Linked DNA regions of Homo sapiens: region 2 is linked to region 1. The links come from fine-mapping of genetic effects on gene expression. Tissue or cell type: cerebellum. Region 1 holds a variant in brackets; the other region holds the start of a gene. All regions are shown on one strand. Distances are from middle to middle.

The links.
Region 2: ADA2 starts here. The variant in region 1 is fine-mapped to the expression of ADA2 in cerebellum (GTEx, PIP above 0.99). The same link has a PIP of 0.9 or more in cerebellar hemisphere.

Annotation. Positions count from the first base shown.
Region 1 is chr22:17,194,583-17,199,821 of GRCh38, forward strand. The region is part of intron 4 of ADA2 (adenosine deaminase 2); the gene reads right to left. It overlaps LOC107985573 (a long non-coding RNA gene), which reads right to left and starts at 4,207. Exons shown (of 2, transcript XR_001755419.2): 1 at 4,017-4,207; 2 at 3,479-3,833. RefSeq lists enhancers at 738-1,253, 3,804-4,308, 4,309-4,812, 4,813-5,239. The variant C/T (reference allele first, on the strand shown) is at 2,723.
Region 2 is chr22:17,216,090-17,221,578 of GRCh38, forward strand. It overlaps ADA2 (adenosine deaminase 2), which reads right to left and starts at 3,346. Exons shown (of 10, transcript NM_001282225.2): 1 at 3,267-3,346. RefSeq lists enhancers at 2,723-3,083, 2,924-2,993, 3,004-3,133.

The DNA.
Region 1 (5,239 bases):
CCATGAAGCCTGGCACGTCACACAGCCCCCCACAACCTGCACCTGGCCAGGCCACTCACTCTGCTCGGGCAGTTTCCCTGACTGCCTGACCTGGCACAGCCATGCTCAGGGGCTACTGAACTTTAAGGCTGCCAGAGCGTGCCAGAAGGAAGAACCTTAGGTACTGTTCATTCAGGATCTAGTATTGTCTATTATTATTATTATTTACTGAAGAGGGTCAGAATATGTCACCCAATAGGCCACTTTAGCAGAAGAAATATTTTTAGCTGAAGGCAATTAAGAAGCAGCAAATGAAGAAAGAGCTCTTTGCCCACCTCATCTGCCTAAATTTCCCTTTGTGAAGGTGTCGCCCTCCCCTCTCCCGTACCAGGAGAATCACCCTTACCACCGGAAACAGAAAGTTGTTACCAAGATGGGTCTGCACAAACCAGCCTTATAAAATTGCCCTTATCTTCCATTAGTTTCCCCCATATGTTTGCCTGCCCACAATTTACTGTCCCTAGAAGCCCAAACCCCTTTTCCTTCATCTTGTCACTTCTTCACAATTTATTACCAGTTGTTAAAATGGAATATAAGCCCTCACTCTAACTTCTTTGGTGCTTCACGTCTTTTCAAGGAAGGCCTGCATCTATCTGTGCACATAGCAAATTCTTAGGCCGGGTGTGATGGCTCATGCCTGTAATCCCAGCACTTTGGGAGGCGGAGGCAGATCACCTCGGGCAAATCACCTGAGGTCAGGAGTTGGAGACTATCCTGGCCAACATGGTGAAACCTCATCTCTACTAAAAATACAACAATTAGCCGGGCGTGGTGGTGGGCGCCTGTAATCCCAGCTACTGGGGAGGCTGAGGCAGGAGAATCGCTTGAACCCGGGAGTTGGAGGTTGCAGTGAGCTGAGATCGCGCCACTGCACTCCAGCCTGGGCGACAGAGCAAGACTCCGTCTCAAAAAAAAACAAAACAAAACAAAAAAATTTTTTTAAACTTTTATTTTGCAACAGTCTTGCCGTGTCGTCCAGGCTGGAGTGTGGTGGTGCAATCTTGGTTCACTGTCTGTTTCACTCTTATTCTCTCATGGATGTACAGTAGAATTTTCCTGAAGCTGCATCATGTGTCATATCATTCTGACCGATAATGCCAATCATGGATTATGTGTTTGTATTTAGAATAATTTCTTTCCTTTTTTTTTTTTTTTTTGAGACGGAGTCTCGCTCTGTCACCCAGGCTGGAGTGCAGTGGTGCGATCTCGGCTCACTTTAACCTCCACCTCCTGGGTTCAAGCACGACTCCCGAGTAGCTGGGATTACAGGCACATGCCACCACGCCTGGCTATTTTTTTGTATTTCTGGTAGAGACGGGGTTTCGCCATGCTGGTCAGGCTGGTCTTGAACTCCTGACCTCATGATCTGCTCGCCTCAGCCTCCCAAAGCGCTGGGATTACAGGCATGAGCCACTGCGCCCGGCAAGAAAATTTCTTAATTTTGGCTGGGTGCAATAGCTCACACCTGTAATCCCAGCACTTTGGGGGGCCAAGGCGAGTGGATCACCTGATGTCAGTTGACCAGCCTGGCCAACATGGTGAAACCCCTTCTCTACTAAAAATACAAAAATTTGCTGTAATCCCAGCTACTCGGGAGGCTGATGCAGGAGAATCACTTGAACCCAGGAAGCGGAGGTTGCAGTGAGCCAAGATTGTGTGCCATTGTACTCCAGCCTAGGCAACAAAAGTGAAACTCCATCCCAAAAAAAAAAAAAAAAAGGAAAATTTCTTAATTTTAACATCTAATACAGGATATATCAATAGATATAATCCACATAAATAAAAGGCGTTTGAAATTAACAAAAATTTTTAAGAATATAAAGAGGTTCTGGGACCAGAAAGTTGGAGAACCACTGTGTTAACCCAACCCACAATTGTTACCTGCAGTTGTCTTGGACTCATCCAGCTGGTTCACAGCAGGGAAGAATAGGGTTCTGTCCTGACCTTGACCACCCTGTCATTACTGAGTCTCCTGCCCACACCCCCCAGCTAGATTGGAGGCTCCTCCAGGGTAGAGTCCTTGCAGTTTTACTCTCCCCACCTCCTCTCCTATGGCACCAGAGCAGGAGCTCCATAAATAAATATTAATTCAAGGAGAGTGCTGTCCACAGGAGTTTTAAAAGTACTAAGGCCCAGGCAGCAAGGGCAAATAGACAGTTGTTGGCGGAGTGGTAGGTGGAGTCATGCCAGCAGAATAGAAGGGAGACCAAAGAAATAACCTTTAAAAAATATTAACAAATGACAACTCTGCTTAAAAGAAGATCTCTGAGGCCTGGCATGGTGGCTTATGCCTGTAATCCCAGCACTTTAGGAGGCCGAGGCAGGCGAATCACCTGAGGTCAGGAGTTCAAGAGCAGCCTGGCCAACATGGCGAAACCCCGTCTCTACTAAAAATACAAAAATTAGCCGGGCATGGTGATGGGCACCTGTAATCCCAACTACTCGGGAGGCTGAGGCAGGAGAATCACTTGAACCCAGGAGGCAGAGGTTGCAGTGAGCCAAGATCGCACCACTGCACTCCAGCCTGGACGACAGATTGGTTCATGGGGAAATTTGGGAGCAGAGTGCTGTAAAGGTCATACAACTGGTTTGTATCAGAACAGAAACAAGGACTCGCAATTTCTTTTTTTCTTTCTTTCTTTTTTTTCTTTTTTTTTTTTGTCTGAGACAGGGTCTCACTCTG[C/T]GGCCCAGGCTGCAGTGCAGTGGCATGATCTTGAACAGCCTTGAATTTCCAGGCTCAGGTGATCCTCCCACCTCAGCCTCTTGAGTAACTGGGACCACAGGTGCATACCACCATACCTGGCTAATTATTTTGTTTTGTCCTGTTTTGTAGAGACAAGGGTTTTGCCATGTTGCCTAGGCTGGTCTCGAACTCCTGAGCTCAAGGGATTCACCTGCCACCATCTCCCAAAGTGCTGGGACTACAGGCATGAGCCACTGCACCTGGCCAGTACTGGCAGTTTCACTCAGCTTTCACTACCAGAGTATCATTCACTTAAGAAGTGTTGAGCTTCTACTACATGCCAGGCATATGCAGGGGGCTTTATGCCATAATCTCATTTAACCCTCAAAACTACACTATGAGGTAGGTCTCATTTTACAGATAAGGATTTTGAGGCTTTAAAAGTTTGAGAAGGCTGAGCACGGTGGCTCACGCCTATAATCCTAGCACTTTGGGAGGCCAAGGCGGGCGGATCACCTGAGGTCACGAATTCGAGACCAGCCTGACCAACATGGAGAAACCCCGTCTCTACTAAAAATAGAAAATTAGCCGGGTGTGGTGGCACATGCCTGTATTCCCAGCTACTCGGGAGGCTGAGGCAGGAGAATCGCTTGAACCCGGGAGGCGGAGGTTGCGGTGAGCCAAGATTGCACCATTGCACTCCAGTCTGGGCAACAAGAACGAAACTCCGTCTCAAAAAAAAAAAAAACAAAAAAATTGAGAAACTCAGTACCCCTGCATAATTAGTGGGGCTGGAGGCCGACCACATTTCAGAATTTTGCTTGCCCTGAGTTGTCTCCTGTCATCAGGAGGCCCCTGCCCCCTCCTGTAGAAAGGTGACAGTCACTAGAGTGACATCTCAGCCCTGGCGGCACATTGGCATCACTCAAGGAGAGGAAAAATGCCTGTGTCCCACCCCAGAGCAACCAAATCAGAATCTGTGGGGTAGAAGCTTGGTGTTTGTAATCTCCCAGGTGGTGCTAGGGTGCGATATACAGCTGGGCTGAAGATCTGCCACTGTTCCAATCGACAGACAAGTAAATAGCACAATGACAGCATAGTCGGATGAGTCCTGTCAAAAAGGGAGCAGTTAAGAGGGTGCGTGTTCTCGTAAAGCGACACCAGCAACATGACACAGGGTTCGCTTCATTCAGCAAGGAGCCAAATGGAATTTTGAATGAAAGGTCTGCTAAGAATCCAGGCAAAAGCATGGGGGCTGGGGAGCGCGGGTACAGGGAGCACTAGAAATGCTTACTGTATGAACGACAACGTCTTAGAAAACGTCTGGGAACGACTGTCACAGGTTCTCTGCCACCGACGTGTCTCCCATAAGCTCTCCCCTCCATAAGTGCCAGCAGGGCCATCCCCTGTGGATAACCCTCCGGGGTCTTGGAAGAGCCCCATGCTAAAGACTCAGGGGACCCAGTCTGGGCCTCAGACTCTGCCGTGGGGGAAGGGGCCGGAGCCCAGGAGATAAGACCCGCCTAGCGACCGTTGCTACCGGCGAGCAGCCTTTGTTACTGAGCATTAGGAACACAATGGGAGGCTCAGCGGCCAGGATAGTCCGTCCACAGCAGCCCAGGCCGGAATTAGCCTGCGACCAGGCAGGGGGAGGCGAGGGGGCTCAGCAAAAGGATTCTAGTGAAGACTGTTTTTAGTTGTTAATGTGTTGGTGGCCCCCCAACTCTGGCTAATGGGGGGCATTAAGACCTAGACTCTCCGTGGCAAAAGCCTTTGTTCCAGGGTCAGACCCGAACAAATGGGCACATCCCCTCCCCCTCCCCCTCCACCAGAATCCCAAATCCTAGCAGCCCAGCACCTTCTCCAAAGGTTGGCTGGGGGACGGGCGGAGACGGGCAGAGTGAGGACAGAGGACTGGAGCTGGGCAGGCCCCCAAGTCTCTCCACCTCCGGCTCTGGAAGGAGAAAATGGCCACCTGCAGAACAAGGGGGAAGATGGAACAGGAAGCCAGTGCTCTGGCCCTTCTCTTCCTCCCTCCGATCCAACCGCTCAGCAACTTCTCCCACATGCCTCCCCACCAGGCTCAAGATGAAAGCCTCTGTCTCAGCGTCTCCTCCCTCCCCTCCTCTATCCTCTTCCCCTCCACCCACGAAGATCCCAGGGTTCTGCGAGGGTCGGAGTTCCCTATGCACTCCCACACCAAGACAGTTGTCAGGATTTGCCCAACAGGAAGTTCTCCCCTACCAGAGCCCAGTTCCATTCCAGGGAATCCATCTCCCCTCCGGAAAAAGGAAAATTGAAGCCAGATGCTCTCTGGGATCGCCATTTGAGGTGGGCGTGGCTATTAGGACGCTCAGAGAGCCCAGCGCGGTGAGGAAAGCGACGAACTTAGGAGCCCTGGTCTGGGTCCAGCCACCCCTTACTACCTATTTGACCTTCATCAAGCTCTTTGACCTTTCCAGGCTTTAGTTTCGACATCAATAAGATGAATTAATAGCTGGGCATGGCTCGCGTCTG
Region 2 (5,489 bases), 22 kb after region 1:
GGCAGGAGAATCGCTTGAACCTGAGAGGCGGAGGTTGCAGTGAGCCGATATCGCACCACTGCACTCCAGCCTGGGGAAGAAGCAAGACTTCATCTCAAAATAAATAAATAAATATAATAATAAAAATTATCCATGTGTAGTGGTACACACCTGTACTCCCAGCTACTCAGCAGGCTGAGGTGGGAGGATCACTTGAGTCTGGGAGGTCAAGGCTGCAGTGAGCCATGATGGTGCCATTGCACTCCTGCCTGGGTGACAGAGTGAAACCCTATCTGCCCCACTCCCAGGAAAAAAAAAAACCTACAGTTAGATAGAAGAAATAAGTTCTAATGTTTCATAGTAGACTAGGGTGACTATACTTAGCAATAATATTATGTATATTTCAGAGTAACTAAGACCGGGCATGGTGGCTCATGCCTGTAATCCCAGCACTTAGGGAGGCCGAGGCAGGTGGATCACAAGGTCAGGAGTTCAAGACCAGCCTGGCCAACATGGCAAAACCCTGTCTCTACTAAAAATACAAAAACTAGCCATGTGGCGTGTGCCTGTAATCCCAGCTACTTGGGAGGCTGAGGCAGGAAACTTGCTTGAACCCAGAGGGCAGAGGTTGCAGTGAGCCGAGTTCGTGCCACTGCACTCCAGCCCGGCAACAGAGCAAGACTCCACCTCAAAAAAAAAAAAAACACACACACACACACACATATATATAGAGAGAGAGACTCAAATAAAATGGATTAAAGTTAAAATAAATAAATAAATAACAAATATAACCAGAGCACAAGATCATAAGACATGCTTCAAACTGAGAAAGAAACCAAAACAAAACACACAGAGATAAGGAACTGAGAGGAAACAAAGCAACACAGGAAATAAAAGAAAAACCTGAAAGAACTGTAATTAACATCCTTAAAGACATAAAACATTGTGTGTGTAAAACAGGAACAGGAGGTGATTAAAAAAATGAGAATTAGAAAGAACTTTCAGAAATTAAAAACAGCAAAGCCGAATGTTTAAAAATTTACTAGCAATATTAAAAATGAAGTTAAAGAAAATATTTTTAAAAGTAAAGCAAAATAGGAGAAAAGAAAATGAGATGATTATTGGTTGAAGAAATCCAACACCCAAATAACAGACATTTCAGAAGGAAAAAGAAAAAAAAAACAGGTGAAGGAAATAAGCCAATAAGGAATACAAGAAATTGCCCCAGAACTGACAGTCTTTAGATTGAGTACCTTGCACAGCACAGTCAATCATTCTGTGGCCACACCAAGGTACAGCATCTTGGTATTTCAGAGCATTAGCATTAGAAAGGATTATCAAAACTTGCAGAGAGCAGCCAGTTCAGGGTGGCAACGAGCAGGGACTGAAGGAAGGAAATGTATTCAGCATCTCCTCACACAAGGCTCTATGCTGCTCCTTTACCTGGGTTATCTATTTGAATTACATTTAAGAAGGGGCAGTGGCTCATGCCTATAATCCCAGCACTTTGGGAGGCTGAGGTGGGCAGATCACTGGTGCCCAGGAGTTCGATACCAGCCTGGGCAACATAGCAAAACCAAAATACAAAAATTAGCCAGGCGTGGTGTATTGAACCTGTAGTCCCAGCTATTCATGAGGCTGAGGCATGAGAAGTTCTTGAACCTGGGAGGCGGAGGTTTCAGTGAGCCTAGATTGCACCACTGCACTCCAGCCTGGGTGACAGAGCAAGACTCTGTCTCAAAAATAAATACGTAAATAAAATTTTTAAAATGAAAATAAAACGATTGTTTCTCTACACTTGAAAGTATGATACAGCATACTGGAACATGTCAAGACTGTAAATTAGGAGACCTTAGGAACAGCCTCAAATTAGTATCATTCTAACTGTGCAACCTTGGGCAAATCACTAACGTCTCCAGATCTCAGTGTCCTCACCTACAAAAAAGGTAACTTGGACAAGATCAGTGGTTTTCCAAGTGCAGCATGAATATCATCAGTGGCATAAATACAATCTTAGGTGGCTCACAAATGGATAGGGGTTATGTTGACAGATAGGTAATTTTAAAACATGTATTAGCACATCAAACCCATGATATCGTAACTATTATTGTTTTTGTTGAAAAATTTTTAAGTTAAAGAAAAATATTAAGTAAATAGAGGTGCAAGGATATGACAAAAATGGAAAGTTTGCTACTCATTAAATCATTTTAATATCCAAGATTCTTCCCAGCTCAGTTATTCTGTAGTACATCAGATAGCAAAGAAAATTTTAAGAAGGAACTAGTATCAGCAATATGCAGTTATGGCAGAAGCTGTACCCCCAAAATCAGAGTGCTGGACGTCAGCAGAACCCCTTTAACTTCATTAAGTCCTTGACTCTCTTTTTTGACCACGGTGTTTGCCTGCTACTAAAATCTCTAGGGCAGGAGCACGGTGACTTCTATGTCACCATCCCACCTACCCCATGCCACATTCTCCATCAACAGCCCCGCCCCTTGTCCCTGTCTCCCTGGTGACACATAACAAAGGCCATCAAGCTCCCAAATCTTCAACTCCATCCTCTCCAAGAAGGACCCCAAAAGCATTTGTGTCCCAGCAACTGTGAACTTTTCCAGGCTGCCAGACAGAAGTTTATCTAATGGTGGTCAAGACCTGCCTGGTTGAATACTAGTAAAAACAATCCTTATTCACAATTTATTGCTATATCTACTTCATCTTCTCTCCTCCACAAGATTTTCCTTTTACTTTTAAAAGAGGATGCATGAAAACTTCATAAAGTAGTTTGCTTCCAGACTAAGAAGAAAGGAGGCTGGGTGTGGTGGCTCTGCCTGTGATCCCAGCCCTTTGGAAGGCCGAGGCAGGCAGATCACCTGACGTCAGTCGTTCAAGACCAGCCTGGCCAACACGGTGAAACCCCGTCTCTACTAAAAATACAAAAATTAGCCGGGCGTGGTGGTGGGTGCCTGTAATCACAGCTATTAGGGAGGCTGAGGCACAAGAATGGCTTGAACTCGAGAGGCAGAAGTTGCAGAGAGCCGAGATCGTGCCACCACACTCCAGCCTGGTGACAGTGGAGTAGGCCACATGCATCTGTGGTCCTGAGTAAATGCCCTTGGGCCCATTTTCAAAAGCCTGTTGGGAGAAAGCCTGTTACTCCTCCACTGAGAGTCTCAGACCCAGCTCAGATGGAGACAGGGAGAGGTGCAGGTGGATCAAGCCCAAGCTCCGGACTTCCCAGCTACCTCCTGAACCTCATCATCCCACAGCTCCCAAAGGACCCCAGTTACCTCGGAACAGCTCCAGAAACTGAGGGCTGTTTGCTCAGCGCCCCAGCATCTGTGCAGAGCACCGGAAAAGCTCACCAACTGTTTCACTTCCTGTTGGGGTAGGTTTTATTTCCCTCCAGTGTGCACCAGGGATCCAACTAGAGGCCGGGGAGAGGGGCTCTGCAGTGCTGAGGCAGCCAGAGTGGCAAGTGTGTGGCTTACATGCATGCTTGCTGTGTGCATCTGAGTTTGATGTGGGGGGCTTGTGCGCATGTTCATGTGGGTGTTTGTGTGTTCGTGTGTGTTTCGGTTTATGTGCATGTGGGGTTTGTTTTTTTTTTTTTTTTTTTTTTTTTGTAGACAGAGTTTCACTCTTGTTGCCCAAGCTGGAGTGCAATGGCGCAATCTCAGCTCACTGCAGCCTCCGCCTCCCGGGTTCAAGCAGTTCTCCTGCCTCAGCCTCCCGAGTAGCTGGGATTGCAGGCGTGCGCCACCATGCCCCACTGATTTTTTGTATTTTTAGTAGAAATGGGGTTTCACCATGTTGGTCAGGCTGCTCTCGAACTCCTGACCTCAGGTGATCCGCCCACCTCGGCCTCCCAAAGTGCTGGAATTACAGGCGTGAGCCACCATGCCCGGCCGCATGTGGGTTTATTTGTGTTGGAGGGAGGGTGTGTGTGTGTTTGTGTGTACTGTGTCTTTGAAAGGTCCACAGCATGTTGGTTTTGGAAACAAGCACCGCAAAGAGGCACTCCAAAATCTGTTCATGAACTCTGGGAAGTTCTCCTTCCTCAAAATGTGATTGTGGACTGTGGGGCAACCCATTAGACAGAGAGTAAAAAGTAGCTATAATAAAATATATGTTTTAGGGGGGAAATCAGGGATGCGGGGACAGGACAGTAGAGGGGGCAGGAGGTAGGAGACAAGAGCTGGGGTGTGAAGAGGACCAGCAAGAACAACGCTCCAAGGGACAAGTGGAGCAGACAAGGCTCCTGTACCCAGGACGGTCAGAGTCAGACCTCGCTTTGTAGCTGGCCTTAGCACTGTAGCAGTGGGGCCTCGACCAAGTTGTTTCAACTCTCTATACTTCAGTTTCCTCATCTGAAAATGTGGATAATAAAAGCACCCACCACAGAGGGTCCATTGTCAGAATTAAAGGAAAAACACATGCAAAGTACCTGCCACATAGAAAGCTCTTGATAAATATTAGCCATGACTATTCTTAGAAGTAACTATTGGGATGCCTCATCCAAGCCAATTAGAAATGCAGACATGGGAGGCTACACCAGGGACCTCCATGTCACATGCATGGTCTAAAGACTCGATTGCACCCCACTCCTCCCCAGTCCCACTCAAATCTACCCCCAAGACCCCAAATCTACCCCCAAAAGCCCACGGCAGTTTCAGTTCTGCAGCTCCCATACATCTGGAGCCTTGATGCTCCTTTTTGTCATTTTCTCCAAAAAGTACCAAGGTCATTCATTTAATAAACAGGAAGAAATCCCAAAGTGAAAACACAGAGGGGTCAGGGATTCCCTCATCAAGAGTTCAAGACTAGGCTGGGCTCAGTGGTGCATGCCTGTAATCCCAGCACTTTGGGAGGCCGAGGCAGGTGGATCACAATGGAAGGGGTTCGAGACCAGCCCCTACTAAAATACAAAAATTAGGTGTGGTGGTGCGCACCTGTAATCCCAGCTACTTGGGAGGCTGAGGCAGGAGAATTGCTTGAACCCTGGAGGTGGAGGTTGCAGTGAGCTGAGATTGCACCATTGCACTCCAGTCTGGATGACAGAGTGAGATTTTGTCTCAAAAAAAAAAAAAAGAGTTTAACACTAATTTTTTGAAAGTTAGAGGAAGCAGAATGCACCGCAAGTAATAAGGAGAAACAAGATTGATTCCAGCGCCGCACAAAGGGAAACCACCAATTCTGAAAGTAAATCATGTGAAGGGTTTTTTGTGGGTTTTTTTTATACTTTAAGTTCTAGGGTACATGTGCACAATGTGCAGGTTTGATACATAGGTATACCTGTGCCATGTTGGTTTGCTGCACCCATCAACACATCATTTACATTAGGTATTTCTCCTAATGCTATCCCTCCCCCAGCCCCGACCCCCCCGACAGGCCCTGGTGTGTGATGTTCCCCTTGAAGGGTTTTTTTAAAGACCAGGTCAAAGCTAAAGATCAAGCTTTTCTTTCCAAACGCTTTAGCTAAAAGTAGGAGCTAATTTTCACATCTCCGAAGG